Homo sapiens: one gene and its partner. The protein of the gene in region 2 purifies or fractionates together with the protein of the main gene of each other region. This does not show direct contact. Each region holds a gene or a part of one and is shown on either strand. Other genes may lie near its edges.

Region 1 (7,575 bases), on a different chromosome or scaffold from region 2:
TTGAACCTGGGAGGTGGAGTTTGCAGTGAGCCGAGATCGTGCCATTGCACTCCAGCCTAGGCAACAAAGGGAGATTCTGTCTCAAAAAAAGAAAAAGAAAGTCATGATTTCTTTTGTTTTGCCATACCCGTCCCCCCATTTTTTTGAAGTTTCCTTAATGTGCTTCAATTTAGGACTAACTTTTTTTGTTTCAGACAAATCTTCCTATTTTCAAGCTGAAAGAATCTACTGTTAGAAGAAGATACAGTGACTTTGAATGGCTGCGAAGTGAATTAGAAAGAGAGAGCAAGGTAAGAATGATTTATGATGCAACTTTAAAGCAAAACATTCCAAGTTTTAATGTTTAATATTTCTCAGGAAAATGATATTGAATAAAATGGGTAAAAGCAAATATGATTTCTTTTTTTCAAATAGTTCAGTGTCATTTTATAGAGGTAGAGTCTGTGTAAATTTTCCTTAGAACTCTTTCTCTTGTCTGCTTTGGCCCAGTTGAGGTCTTTGCTGACTCACACTTCAATAACACTTCTTAGAACCTTGTTGCTATTACTTCCTTCCTTTCCCTCATCGTCCTATTCCATCTTCCCCTCTCCACACACTTAAGCCAAGTTTCTCTTCCTCAATACATTTTATAAATGTCAGTGTATTTCCAATTTTGTTTTAGTGACATATAAGTTTTTTTCATCACATATATGTTCATGTAACAGAAGTTTCATAAAGCAGTAATGACCTCACTCTGTGTGATATGTGCTGATATTCTTCAGATTAGCGTTTTTAAATGATGGCCATGATCCACTAATGGGTTGCTGCCGGCAATTTAAAAACACTGTTACATGCCTGATCTTCTCTTAGAATAGAATTTGGTAGCTTTGGCATCAAAATAAATTAAAGCAAGGTCTCACTCTGGTGTCTCTCATTTCAGCCCTGCCTCAGAATGACATCAGAGGCAAGGAGTCATGGAAGGACGTGGTGTGCTCAGAATGATGAAAAGTTATTTTGTGACTAGAAAGTAGGTAAAAAGGTGTGGGTATGGTAGGAGTCCTGAACTAGATGAAGGCTAGTCTGTACTCATTTCTCAAGTTTAATAAGGGTTTTCTTTTTTTTTCTGTTTCTAGCCTAAGATAAAAGTGGCTGCATATGAGCACAAAATATGCAGATCATAGCATTCCAACAAAAATGTAAAGAAGGCCGGGCATGGTGGCTCATGCCTATAATCTCGGTACTTTGGTAGGCCGAGTCAGGAGGATCTCTTGAGCCCAGCAGTTCAAGACCAGCCTGGGGAACATAGTGAGGCCCCATCTCTTCCAAAATTTTTAAATATGAATAAAACTAGAAATACAAAATCTGTGTTAAGAAAGCTCTCAAACTTTACCAAAAGACCAGACCTAAATAAAGAGGGGCCAGGTGCAGTGGCTTACGCCTGTAATCCCAGCACTTCAGGAGGCCAACGTGGGTGGATCACTTAAGCCAAGGAGTTCGAGACCAGCGTGGGCAACATGCGAAACCCCATCGCTACAAAAAATACAAAAATTAGCCAGGCATGGTGACATGCACCTGTAGTCCCAGCACTCAGGAGGCTGAGGCAAGAGGATCACTTTGAGTCCAGGAGGCAGAGGTTGCAGTGAGCTGTAGTCTTGCCCCTGCACTCCAGCATGGGCACCAGAGCCAGGCCCTGTCTCAAAAAAAAAAAAAAAAAAAAAAAAAAAAAAAGTGTAATACTGTATTCCTTGTAATACTGTATTCCTCGTTTGGAATGTTTACTGTTGAAGATTTTTTTATTTTATAAACATTTTAGCTCGTCCTTTGTGTTCTAGGAGTTACAGGTAGAGCTATGAACAAATTAAGGTCCCCTCTTTTATGGTGCTTATATCCTATTAGGTAAATTGCGGGGGAGGGGGTTGTTGAAGAGAAGGCAGGAAAAATATAGTAAAATATATAGATGTCAGATGATGAGAAGCTCTAAAAAAAAAAACAAAGCTAAACTAAGGGAAGTAGGAAGTGCCAGGGGAGCCACTCTCATATAGAGCACAAGGGAAGGCCTCACTCTAGGTGACATTAGCAGAGACCTGCATGAAGTAGAGCAGTATCTTCTAACTTATTTATAAATTCATAAGATTGTAGTAGAAATTTCAGTAGGGCTGTTTATAAAGTTGCAGATTTATTTATGAGCTTTAGAATCAGAAAAAGCTCAAGAATAACCAAAAAATATTTTCAGTATATAGTGGGCAGCAGGTTATTTGTTCTACCAGACATCAAAACATCTTTTTTTTTTTTGAGACTGAGCCTCACTCTGGAGTGCAGTGGCATCATGTCGGCTCACTGCAACCTCCATCTCCGGGGTTCAAGCAATTCTCCTGCCTCAGCCTCCCGAGTAGCTGGGATTACAGGCACCCACCACCACACTCGGCTAATTTTTTTTATATTTTTAGTAGAGATGGGGTTTCATCATGTTGGCCAGGCTGGTCTCGAACTCCTGACCTCAGGTGATCCGCCCTCCTCGGCCTCCCAAAGTGCTGGGATTACAGGTGTGAGCCACTGTGCCTGACCCAAAACATATCTTAAGGCTATAGTAATTCAAACAATGTGGTGTAGTCATATGGCACTTAATGATGAGAATACATTCTAAGAAATGCATCCTTAGGTGATTTCATTGTTTGTGCAAACATCATATGAGTATACTCACACAAACCCAGGTGGTGTAGCCTACTACACACCTAGGCTATATGGTACAGCCTATTACTCCTAGACTACAAGCCTATCCAACATGTTACTGTACTTAATACTACAGGCAGTTGTAACATAGTGGGAAGCATTTGTGCATCTAAACATATAAAAGATATGGTAAAAAATACAGCGTGGAAGACTTTTTTTTTTTTAAAGCATGGAAGATTTTTTAAATAGTACACCTGTATAGGGCACTTACCATAAATGGAGCTTGCAGGATTGAAAGTTGTTCTGGGTGAGTCAGTTAGTATGTGGCGAGTGAATGAGAAGACCTAGGACATTACTGTTTATTACTGCAGGCTTTATAAACACTGTACATTGAAATTTATAATTTATAAAATATTTTTCTTCAATAATAAATTAACCTTAGCTTACTTTTTAAACTTTTTACTTTAACTTTTTGACTCTTGTAATAACACTTAGCTTAAAACACAGACACATTGAACAAATGTACAAAAATATGTTCTTTATATTCTTATTCTATAAGCTTTTCTCTATTTAAATTTTTTTAACTTTTTCTTAAAAATTAAGTCACAAATATACATAGTAGCCTAGGCCTGCACAGAGTCAGGATCACCAAGACATCTCTAGGCAATAGGAATTTTTCACCTCCATTATAATCTTAAGGCACCACAGTTATTATCTTAAGTGGTCCATCTCTGATGGGAAACACTGTTATGCAGTGTATATTGCTTTAGGTTGGGCAAATAGATTAGTGGAATATAATAGAGTTTAGAGTTTGACCCATGTATTTATAGGGAATTTAGTTCATAACAAAAATAGCATTGTCATTCAGTGGGAAAGGAATTCAGCAAATGGAGTTGAAATATTTGTCTATTAGGAAATAAAGATTTATATCTCACTATATTACAAATTACAGATGGTTGGGAGATTGATTGATTGATTGATTGACAGAGCCTTGCTCTGTTGCCCAGGCTGAAATGCGGTGGCGTGATCATAGCATACTATAATATCCTCCAACTCCTGGTCTCAAGTGATTTTCCTGCCTCAGCCTCCCAAGTAGCTGGGACTACAGGCATGAGCCACCATGTCCAGCTAATTTTAAAAAATTTTTTGTAAGGATGAGGCTTCACTATGTTGCCCAGGCTGGTCTTGAATTCCTGGCCTCAAGTAATCCTCCTGCCTTGGCCTCCCAAAGTGCTGGGATTACAGGCATGAGCCACCACACCTAGCTGAGAAGTGTCTTGATACATAGGCTTTGGGCTTTGCTTGACATACCATGTGGCACACTGGAAATGTTTAATAAACGTTTGCTGAGTGTATATTTTGCTTTTTTTTGTAAATTTATTTATTCATTTTTTAAAAATTTTTAGTAGAGACGGGGTTTCACCGTGTTAGCAAGACGGTCTCGATCTCCTGGCCTTGTGATCCGCCCGCCTTGGCCTCCCGAAGTGCTGGGATTACAGGCGTGAGCCACCCCGCCCGACCGCTTTTGTTTTTAGTAACAGCTTTATTGAGATATAATTCACATACCATGCAATTCACCCATTTAAAGTGTATAATTCACTGGTTTTTAATATGTTCACAGAGTTGTGCAACCATCACTATTTTAGAGCACTAGTCAATTTTAGAGCATTTTTATCACCCAATAAAAGAAACCCTGTCCCCATTAGTAGACACCACTGATTTCTCCCCAACCCTTCCTCACTCAGCCTATGGCAACCACCTGCTAGTCTCCTTTCTCTGTGGATTTGCCCATTCTGGGCATATGTAAATGGAAGCCCACAATATGTGATCTTTTGTGTCTGGCTTCTTTCACTTAACATGTTTTCACAGTTCATGCTTTTCTAACATGCATCAATTACTTCATTTCTTTTTATTCCTAAATAATATCCTATTGTATGCTTATACCACATCTTATTTATACACTTATTTGGTGGACATTTTGTTCTACTTTTTGGCTGTTATTGGTAGTGCTGCTGTGAACATTTGTGCATAGGTTTCTGTCTGCATGTGTTTTCATTTCTTTTCAGTATATACCTACCAGTACATTGCTGGGTCATAACTCTTTTTAACCTTTTGAGGAATTGGCAGACCGTTTTTCCAAAGCAGCTGTGTAATTTTACATTCTTACCAGCAATGTGAGGTTCTACTTTTCTCCACATCCTTACCAATTGCCTGTCTTCTTTATTATAGCTATCCTACTGTTTGTGAAGGGGTATTGCATTGTGGTTTTGATTTTTATTTCTCTAATGGCCACTAATGTTGATTTTCTTTTCATATACTTACTGGTCATTTATGTATCTTCTTTGGAGACATCTTTATTGAGAGCTTTTGCCTTTTTCAATGGGTTCATCTTTTTATTATAGAGTTATGTCGAGAATATATAAGACTCTTAGAGTTCCCTATCAGATACATAATTTGCACATATCTCCCAGTCTCTGGGTTGTTTTTCACTTTCTTGATGTTGTCCTTTGAAGCACAATACTTCACATTTAACATTAGACCAGTTAAATATATTGAGAGTTAAATCCATGTGAAAGTTTTACTCGTATTACAGTATTGCAAAGAACAATGTAATCAAGTTATTTTGTGGTATATTAGTACTTTTAACTAAGATCTGTTAAACTAAGCTAGAAATTAGCTGACATGTATTATGGTCAGATCTTTTAGCTTTTATTCTAGTTTGCTTTAGCTTTCAATATATTGTGCTCACCAGATATTCTCCTATTTCTCACCCCACATGCACGCACATATCTTTGCATTCATGACTTTTTAATTAGTATTAGAATTTTTTTTTTTTTTTTTTGAGACGGTGTCTAGCTCTCGCCCAGGCTGGAGTACCGTGGTGCAGTCCCGGCTTACTGCAATCTCTGCCTCCCAGGCTCAAGCAATTCTCCTCAGCCTCCTGAGTAAAGGGGTTACAAGCATGCACCACCATGCCCGGCTAATTTTTTGTATTTTTAGTAGACACAGGGTTTCACCATGTTGGCCAGGCTGGTCTTGAACTTCTGACCTCAGGTGATCCACCCACCTTGGCCTCCTGAAGTGCTGGGATTACATATGTGAGCTACCGCACCCAACCTGGTGTTAGAATTCCAGTTAGGTGTTTTCAGACTGCTTCAGCAAAAATAATTTGATGTAGAAGAGAATCTTAGCTGGATGAGCCATTTATGATTTTTATAGATCATTAATCCTGTTGCCTACCACCTCCCCATCCATTTGAATGACTAGTTTGAATATGTTAGGAAGAGTGTATCTCTACAGAGGATAATGCATAGCTATCCTTTTCTTAAATTCCCATTATATATGAAATTTATATATATTTAATTATATATATATTGTTACATTTTTTATCATTTTCCTTCTTTCTTTAACTGACATCCTTGAGCTATCCTTTTCTTAAGTTTCATGCTAAATTCTACCCTGAATTAATGGTGGTCATTTATTTAACACAGTGGTTCCAGAATTCTTTTTTTAAATAATAATTGTGTAGATACAGATATTTTTCCCTGCCCACCAGATAGCCATTCTACTGGAACGTAATGGTTAGCATTCCTTTGTTTCTCAGTTATAGAAGGTCCCTGCAGATTTTAACTCTCAACTAAACAGATGTTAACATGGGGGTGAGATCTGAGAATGCTAGCATAAATTTACGGAGACAAATCCATAGATATCTTCATCATTGGTCATCTGAGGAGAGTAAATCTAGGAAGGGATTATAAAGTTTATTTGGACATTTGGTTTTTTTGTTTTTATTTTGTTTTTTGTTAATCTATATGAAGTCGAGTTGCTCTTTCCCTTTTTTACCCTATTGAATTTTGTTTGAGGATAAACAACTCGTTGTAGAAACTATATCAAGGGTTTAAAGTTTTAATTTTTTTGAATATGTGTAATTTGTATTATTGGTGAAAAGAAAAATATGTATCAGTTTACTATATATATTTCTCCTTGTTCTGATTGTTTGCTTACACATTTCTCTGTTTGCGTTTAAAGTAAGGATCCAGCTAAGTGGTTGGTCATTTAACAGATATTTGAGCTTCTGTTGTATGCCCAGTTTTTCTTAAAATAACCACAAGAAGCCTAAGACAGGGGTCTTGATTTGAAGACATTAGTATGATAGATTGATGGTTTTCCACCAAAGGCAGTTTTATCCCCCAGGAGACGTTTGACACTGTCTAGAGACATTTTTTATTGTCTCAGCTGGGGGTGCTATGTTGTCTAGTGGGCAGAGGCTAGGGATGCTGCTAAAGAAAAGAATGCCAGCCTGGCCAACACAGTGAAACACCATCTCCACAAAAAATAGAAAAATTAGCCAGGCGTGGTAGCACGCTATGTACCTGTAGTGTCCCGGCTATTTGGGAGGCTGATGCAGGAGGATCATCTGAGTCTGGGGGAGGCTGCAGCGAGCCATGATCGCACCACGGAACTCCAGCCTGGGTGACAGAGCAAGACCCCATCTCAAGAAAGAAAAGAATGCACAAGAAAGCCCCCCAGTACAAAACTTATCTGATTCTCAGTAGTGCTAGGGTAGAGAAACCAAACTAACCTGTGAAATAGCTAGGTGCTATTTAATCAAAACAAGTATTTTGAGCTCCAGAATAACATTTTTAAAAATTTATTTTTTTTTTAAGACGGGGTCTCGCTGTCACCTAGGCTGGAGTGCAGCGACATTTTAGTTCACTCCAGTCCTGAACTCCTGGACTCAAGTGATCATCCCACTTCCGCCTCCTAAGTAGCTGGGACTACAGGCTCACACCACCACACCCAGCTAAGTTTTTTTTATTTTTGTAGACATGTGCCCAGGCTTGTGTCAAATTCCTGGCCTCAAGCAATCCTCCCGCCTGCCTTGGCCTCCCAAAGTGCAGGGATTGCAGATGTGAGCCACTGCAC
Region 2 (7,575 bases):
AAAGTAAATTTTATATATATATATATATATATATATATATATATTTTTTTTTTTTTTTTTTTTTTTTAAAGAAAGTTGAGGCCGGGTGTGGTGGCTCACGCCTGTAATCCCAGCACTTTGGGAGGCCAAGGCAGGCAGATTACCTGAGGTCAGGAGTTCAAGACCAATCTGGTCAACATGGTGAAACCCCGTCTCTACTAAAAATACAAAAATCTGTTGGAAGTGGTGGCACGCACCTGTAATTCCAGCTACTCAGGAGGCTGAGGCAGGAGAATCGCTTGAACCTGGGAGGTAGAGGTTGCAGTGAGCTGAGATCATGAGCTGAGATCATGCCACCACACCCCAGCCTGGGCAACAGAGCAAAACTCCGTCTCAAAAAGAAAAAAAAAAAAGAAAGTTGAGCAAGCTAGGGTGATTTTCTTTTATTTTCTTTTGTGTTTGTGTGTGCACGTGTGTGTGTGTGTGTGTGTGTGTGTATGACAGGCTTTCACTCTGTCACACAGACTGGGATGTGGTGGTGTGATTATAGCTCACTTCAGCCTCAATCTCTTGGGCTCAAGTGATCCTTTCACCCCAGCCTCCTAAGTAGCTGGGACTACAGGCAAACGCCACCGTGCCCAGCTAATTTTTAATTTAATTTTTATTTTTTGTAGAGACGAAGTCTTACTATGTTGCCCAGGCTGGTCTCGAACTCCTGGGCTCATGTGATCCTCCTGCCTTGGCATCTCAAAGTGCTGGGATGACTAGTGTGAGCCACTGTGCTTGGCCTTGAAGCTAGGGTATTTATTCACCATCTCTCATCCCTCATGGGTCCAGGATCACTCTAGGGGAATTAATTCCCTAACATTTTGACTCTGCTCCTCCCAAGGAGGCTTCCGTGGGCAGAGAACATCTGAGGCAAGAGAGACACAGGAAACTGCTTGTAAGAAAATTGTGTAGGCTGGGCGCGGCGGCTCACGCCTGTAATCCCAACACTTTGGGAGGCTGAGGCAGGCGGATCACGAGGTCAGTTGATCGAGACCATCCTGGCTAACATGGTGAAACCCCGTCTCTACTAAAAATACAAAAAATTAGCTGGGCGCGGTGGCGGACGCCTGTAGTCCCAGCTACTCGGGAGGCTGAGGCAGGAGAATGGCGTGAACCTGGGAGGTGGAGCTTGTGGTGAGCCGAGATCGCGCCACTGCACTCCAGCCTGGGTGACAGAGCGAGACTCCGTCTCAAAAAAAAAAAAAAAAGAAAGAAAGAAAATTGTGTCCACCAGGGTGCTGTGGTTCATATCTGTCATCCCAGCAACTCAGGAGGCTGAAGCAGGAGGATTACTTGAGGCCAGGAGATCAAGACCTGCCTGGGTAACACAGCCAGACTCCGTCTCTACAAAAAATTTTTTTAAGAAAGGAAATTGGCTGGGCACGGTGGCTCGCGCCTGTAATCCCAGCACTTTGGGAGGCTGAGTTGGGCGGATCACCTGAGGTCAGGAGTTCGAGACCAGCCTGACCAACATGGAGAAACCCTGTCTCTACTAAAAATACAAAATTAGCTGGGCGTGGTGGTGCATGCCTGTAATCCTAGCGACTCGGGAGGCTTAGACAGGAGAATAGCTTGAACCCAAGAGGCGGAGGTTGCGGTGAGCCGAGATTGTGCCATTGTACTCCAGCCTGCAGCCTGGGCAACAAGAACAAAACTCCGTCAAAAAAAAAAACAAACAAAAAAACAGAGAAAGGAAACTGGGACGGGTGCGGTGGCTCATGCTTGTAATCCCAGCACTTTGGGAGGCAGAGGCAGGCAGATCACTTGAGGTCAGGAGTTCGAGACCATCCTGGCCCACACGGTGAAACCCCATCTCTACTAAAAATACAAAAAATTACCTGGGCATAGTGGCGCACGCCTGTAGTCTCAGCTATTTGGGAGGCTGAGGCACGAGAGTCGCCTGAACCTGGGAGGCAGAGGTTGCAGTGAGCCAAGATTGTGCCACTGCACTCCAGCCTGGACAACAGAGTGAGACTCTATCTCAATAAAAAAACAAAAAGAAAGGAAACTGTTCGAACGTGGCCTTTAGCATGTTCTGAGGAAAATATGAGCTGAACACCAATAGCATGTGCTATAAACTGCTGGGTTTCCAATGCCTAGGATGGCTAGATACATAGACCATAACGTAGCCGGGCAGTAGTCAGAACTCAATCAATAATGAGGGAACAGATACATGGGAGGGTATCATGCTTATGGGTCTGGCAATAATTGTAGCTAATTGGAGACTTATTTCTTTAAGCCCTAGAGAGGCTCCTCTGAGGGCTGAAGTCAGTCTGCCAATGCTGAAATATTTACTGGGTGCCTAGAATGTATGGTGTACATACGTTACACTATGTAGTACATTATAACACTAACTACTGTGCTTCTTAGTGGTCAGAACCAAAGTATAGGCTGGGCTCAGTGGCTCACACCTATAATCCCAGCATTTTGAGAGGCTGAGGGGGCGGATCACTTGAGCTCAGGAGTTTGAGACCAGCCTGGCCAATATGTCGAAACCCAGTCTCTACTAAAAATAAAAGATTGGCCAGGCGTGGTGGCGGGCGCCTATAGTCCCAGCTACTCGGGAGGCTGAGGCAGGAGAATTGCATGAACATGGGTGGCAGAGGTTGCAGTGAGCCAAGATCGTGCCATTGCACTCCAGCCTGGGCGACAGAGGGAGATTGTCTCAAACAACAAACAAAAACCAAAGTATAAAACATGGCCCACTTTATATGCAAGAACTTTGTAATATTTGGGAAGACACAAAAATAACATAATTGGCCGGGCACGGTGGCTCACGCCTGTAATCCGAGCACTTTGGGAGGCCGAGGCAGGGGATCACCTGAGGTCAGGAGTTCAAGACCAGCCTGACCAACACAGTGAAACCCTGTCTCTACTAAAAATACAAAATTAGCCAGGCATGGTGGTGCATGCCTATAATCCCAGCTACTCAGGAGGCTGAGACAGGAGAATCATTTGAACCCGGGAGGCAGAGGTTGTAATGAGCTGAAATCGCACCATTGCACTCCAGCCTGGGCAACAAGAACGAAACTCCTTCTCAAAAAACAACCAAGCAAACAAACAAAGAAAAGCACATAATTAATGATAAATGACAACGCATGATTGTGAAATTGTGTGGTTCTTGATTTATATGCTGTGCATGTTCAAATAAACAGATTTAGTAAAGATTGGAATAATCAGTTGAGAAAGCTTTTTAAAAAAAAAATTTTTTTTTTTAAATAGAGACAGGATCTTGCTGTGTTGCCTAGTCTGGTCTCGAACTCCTAAGCTCAAGCCCTCCTCCTGCCTTGATCTTCCAAAGTGTTGGGATTACAGGTGTGAGCCACCATGCCTGGCCCAAGAAAGCTTTTTTTTTTTTTTTTTTTTTGAAACACAGTCTTGTTCTTGTTGCCCAGGCTGGAGTGCAGTGGCACGGTCTCGGCTCACTGCAACCTCCGCCTCCTGGGTTCAAGTGATTCTCCTGCCTCAGCCTCCCAAGTAGTTGGGATTACAGGTGCCTGCCACCACCCCCAGCTAATTTTTTGTATTTGTAGTAGAGGTAGGGTTTCATCATGTTGGCCAGGCTGGTCTCGAACTCACTCCTGACCTCGTGATCCGCCTGCCTCGGCCTCCCAAAGCGCTGGGATTACAGGCGTGAGCCACAGCGCCTGCCCCAAGAAAGCTTTTATGGGTACAGGGGGCTTGAGATTGGCTCAGGTTTGTCTAGGCAAGAGCGGGAAACAGGGCTTTCCAAATGAAGGGAAGTTGTAGATCCCAGAGGAGTCTGGCCTGGCCTCTGTAGAGGTTTGGACCTGGGACTTGCAGAAACCAGATTGTCTGGGAAAGTTAGGCCCAAATCATGGTTACATTTGAAAATCAGGCAGTGCAGTTGGGTCTGCTGTGAGACACCAAAGGGGTTTATTAGTGGTTTCTGAGCAAGCAAGCAACATGATAAAAATAGCATTTGAGGAAGGCTAAACAGGATTAAAAAGAGCAGGTCAGGGAGGTCAGCCTGAAAGACCTAGACTAAGGTGGTATCCAGGGAATTTGAGTTAATGATGCTTATGGATTCATTAAAACAATTTTTTCCGCCGGGCGTGGTGGCTCATGCCTGTCATCTCAGCACTTTGGGATGCCGAAGCGGGTGGATAACCTGAGGTCGGGAGTCAAGACCAGCCTGACCAACATGGAGAAACCCTGTCACTACTAAAAGTACAAGAACAACAAAAAATTAGCCGGGCATGGTGGCACATGCCTGTAATCCCAGCTACTCGGGAGGCTGAGGCAGGAGAATCGCTTGAACCTGGGAGGCGGAGGTTGCGGTGAGCCAAGACTGTTGTGCCATTGCCCTCCAGCCTGGGCGACAAGAGTGAAACTCTGTCTCAAAAAAAACTCACAATTTTTTTCATGAAGAAAATCTGTTCTTTTAATAATGAAAATTTCAAACTTCACAAAAGTAAAGAGAATTGTATAATGAATTCTCATATACCATCACCCAGATTCCAAGGTTTTATCAAGATTTTGTCATGTCTACTTTATCCATTCTGTCTCTTCTTAAGCATTTTAAAACAATCCAGGACTTCTTGACATTTCACAGGGGCCTTTTTTTCTTTTCTTTTTTTTTTTTTTTTGAGACAGAGTCTCACTCTGTCGCCTAGGCTGGAGAGCAGTGGTGAGATCTTGGCTCACTGCAACCTCCACCTCCCGGGTTCAACCGATTCTCCTGCCTCAGCCTCCTGAGTAGCTGGGATTACAGGCATGCACCACCATGCCCGGCTAATTTTTGTATTTTTGGTAGAGACTGGGTTTCACCGTGTTGGGCCAGGCTGGTCTCAAACTCCTGACCTCAGGTGATCTGCCTGCCTTGGCCTCCCAAAGTGCTGGGATTACAGGCATGAGCCACTGTGCCCGCTTTCTTTTTTTTTTTTTTTTTTTGAGATGAAGTCTTGCTCTGTCACCTAGGCTGGAGTACAATGGCATGATCTTGGCTCACTGTAACCTCTACATCCTGGGTTCAAGCAATTCTCCTGTCTCAACCTCCTGAGTAGCTGGAATTACAGGTGTGCACCACCACACCCGGCTAATTTTTTTGTATTTTTGTAGAGACAGGGTATCACCATGTTGGCCAGGCGGGTCTCAAACTCCTGACCTCAACTGATCCACCCATCTTGGCCTCCCAAATTGCTGGGATTACAGGTGTGAGTCACCGTGCCCGGCCTGGCCTTTTTTTCTTTTTTAGACAGGGTCTGGTTCTGACACCCAGGCTAGAGTGCAATGGTGCCATCATAACTCCCTGTAACCTAGAACTCCTGGGTAATTAGAACTCCAGCTAATTAAAAAATTTTTTTTGGCTAGGCGTGGTGGCTCACGTCTGTAGTCTCAGCACTTTGGGAGGCCGAGGTGGGCAGATCACAAAAATTAGCTGGGCGTGGTGGCAGGCGCCTGTAATCCCAGCTGCTCGGGAGGCTGAGGCAGGAGAATCGCTTAAGCCCAGGAGGCGGAGGTTGCAGTGAGCCGAGATCGCGCCATTGCACTCCAGCCTGGGCGACAGAGCAAGACCCCGTCTCAAAAAACAAAGACAAGCCAAAAAAATTTTTTTTGTAGAGAGAGCGTCTTGCTGTCTACCCAGACTGGTCTGGAACTCCTGAGCTCAAGCGATTCTCTTGCTTTACGCTCCCAAAGTGCTGGGATTACAAGGTGTGAGCCACCATGCCTGGCCACAGGGGTTCTTTTAAGAGAAGAAAATCAACATAATCTGATGGCTGACTAGAACTAAAAGGAGAAAAATGAGGCTGGTTGTGGTGGCTCACACCTGTAGTCCCAGCACTTTGGAAGACTAAGGCAGGAGGATTGCTTGAGCCTAGGAGTTCGAGGCTGCAGTGAGCTATGATCATGCCACTGCACTCCAGGTAAGAGCCACCACGCCTGGCCAAGACCCTGTCTCTTTTTTTTTTTTGAGACGGAGTCTCGCTCGTTGCCCAGGCTGGAGTGCAGTGGTGCTATCTCGGCTCACTGCAAGCTCCGCCTCCCGGGTTCACGCCATTCTCCTGCCTCAGCCTCCCGAGTAGCTGGGACTACAGGCGCCCGCCACCACGGCCGGCTAATTTTTTGTATTTTTAGTAGAGATGGGGTTTCACCGTGTTAGCCAGGATGGTCTCGATCTCCTGACCTCGTGATCCGCCCGCCTCGGCCTCCCAAAGTGTTGGGATTACAGGCGTGAGCCACCACGCCCAGCCTGACCCTGTCTCTTAAAAAAAAAAAAAAAAAAAAAAAAAATAGGCCGGGCGCAGTGGCTCATGCCTGTAATCCCAGCATTTTGGGAGGCCAAGGCGGGCAGACCACCTGAGGTCAAGAGTTCGAGACCAGCCTCAACATGGAGAAACCCCGTCTCTACTAAAAATACAAAATTAGCCGGGCGTGGTGGTGCATGCCTGTAATCCCAGCTACTCGGGAGGCTGAGGCAGGAGAATTGCTTGAACCTGGGAGGCAGAGGTTGCGGTGAGCCAAGATCGCGCCATTGCACTCCAGCCTGGGCAACAAGAGTGAAACTCCGTCTCAAAAAAATAAAAAATAAAATAAAAAAATAAAAACAGACACAAAGTGCTCTCCCTCACTGGCTCAAGCTCTGGTGATTGGAGAGGTGAGAAGGGGGGCCAGGTGCAGTGGCTCACACCTGTAATCCCAGCACTTTGGGAGGCCAAGGCAGGCGGATCACCTGAGGTCGGGAGTTTGAGACCAGCCTTACCAACATGGAGAAACCCCGTCTCTACTAAAAATACAAAAAAAATTAGTCGGGTGTGGTAGAGCCTGCCTGTAATCCCGGCTACTCAGGAGGCTGAGGCAGGAGAATCGCTTGAGACCAGGAGGTGGAGGTTGCGGTGAGCCAAGATCATGCCATTGCACTCCAACCTGGGCAATGAGAGTGAAACTTGCTCTCAAAAAAAAAAAAAAAAAAAAAAAAAAAAAGAGGTGAGAAGAGAACCAGGAGACACTGTGTCCTGGAAACCAAGAAGGAGAAGCATTTTAGAAGGAATGGTAATAGACAGTGGCAAATTCAGCAGATGAGCAAGGGAAAGTATAGAGGGAAAAACGCAGGTTTGGGCATTAAGGAAATCAGCAGGCAAGGCATTTGCAGTCATGTTAAGGATAAAAGTGAGCTATAGCAGAAGGTTAGGAAGGAGTGTATAGGAAGGAAATTGATGGGCTGGGCGCAGTGGCTCACACCTGTAATCCCAGCACTTTGGGAGGCCAAGGAGGGAGGATCACTTGAGGCCAGGAGTTTGAGACCAGCCTGGGCGACACAGTGAAACACCGTCTCTACCAAAACTACAAAAATTAGCTGGGCGAGATGGCGCGTGTTTGTAGTGCAGTCCCTGCCACTCAGGAGGATGAGGTGGGAGGATAACCTGAGCCCAGGAGGTTGAGGCTGCAGTGAGCTGAGATCGTGCCACTGCATTCCAGCCTGGGCAACAGCCAGACCCTGTCTCCAAAAATAAAAAAAATAAAATAGAAAGTATGGCTAAAATGGGGTGGGGATTGTGTGTTAGGGAAAGAAAGCAGCGATGGAAG

The links. Proteins that work in one complex are often made in the same cells at the same time.
Region 1: the proteins of SIRT4 (region 2) and SNX3 purify together in Homo sapiens (affinity purification with mass spectrometry; 2 studies listed by BioGRID and IntAct, with this or other methods). This does not show direct contact.

What each region holds. Positions count from the first base shown.
Region 1 is NC_000006.12:108,215,665-108,223,239, reverse strand, and holds part of SNX3 (sorting nexin-3), read left to right. Parts: intron 1-194; coding exon 195-290; intron 291-7,575. UniProt on the Homo sapiens protein: Phosphoinositide-binding protein required for multivesicular body formation. Specifically binds phosphatidylinositol 3-phosphate (PtdIns(P3)).
Region 2 is NC_000012.12:120,304,793-120,312,367, forward strand, and holds part of SIRT4 (NAD-dependent protein lipoamidase sirtuin-4, mitochondrial), read left to right. Parts: intron 1-7,575. UniProt on the Homo sapiens protein: Acts as a NAD-dependent protein lipoamidase, biotinylase, deacetylase and ADP-ribosyl transferase. Catalyzes more efficiently removal of lipoyl- and biotinyl- than acetyl-lysine modifications.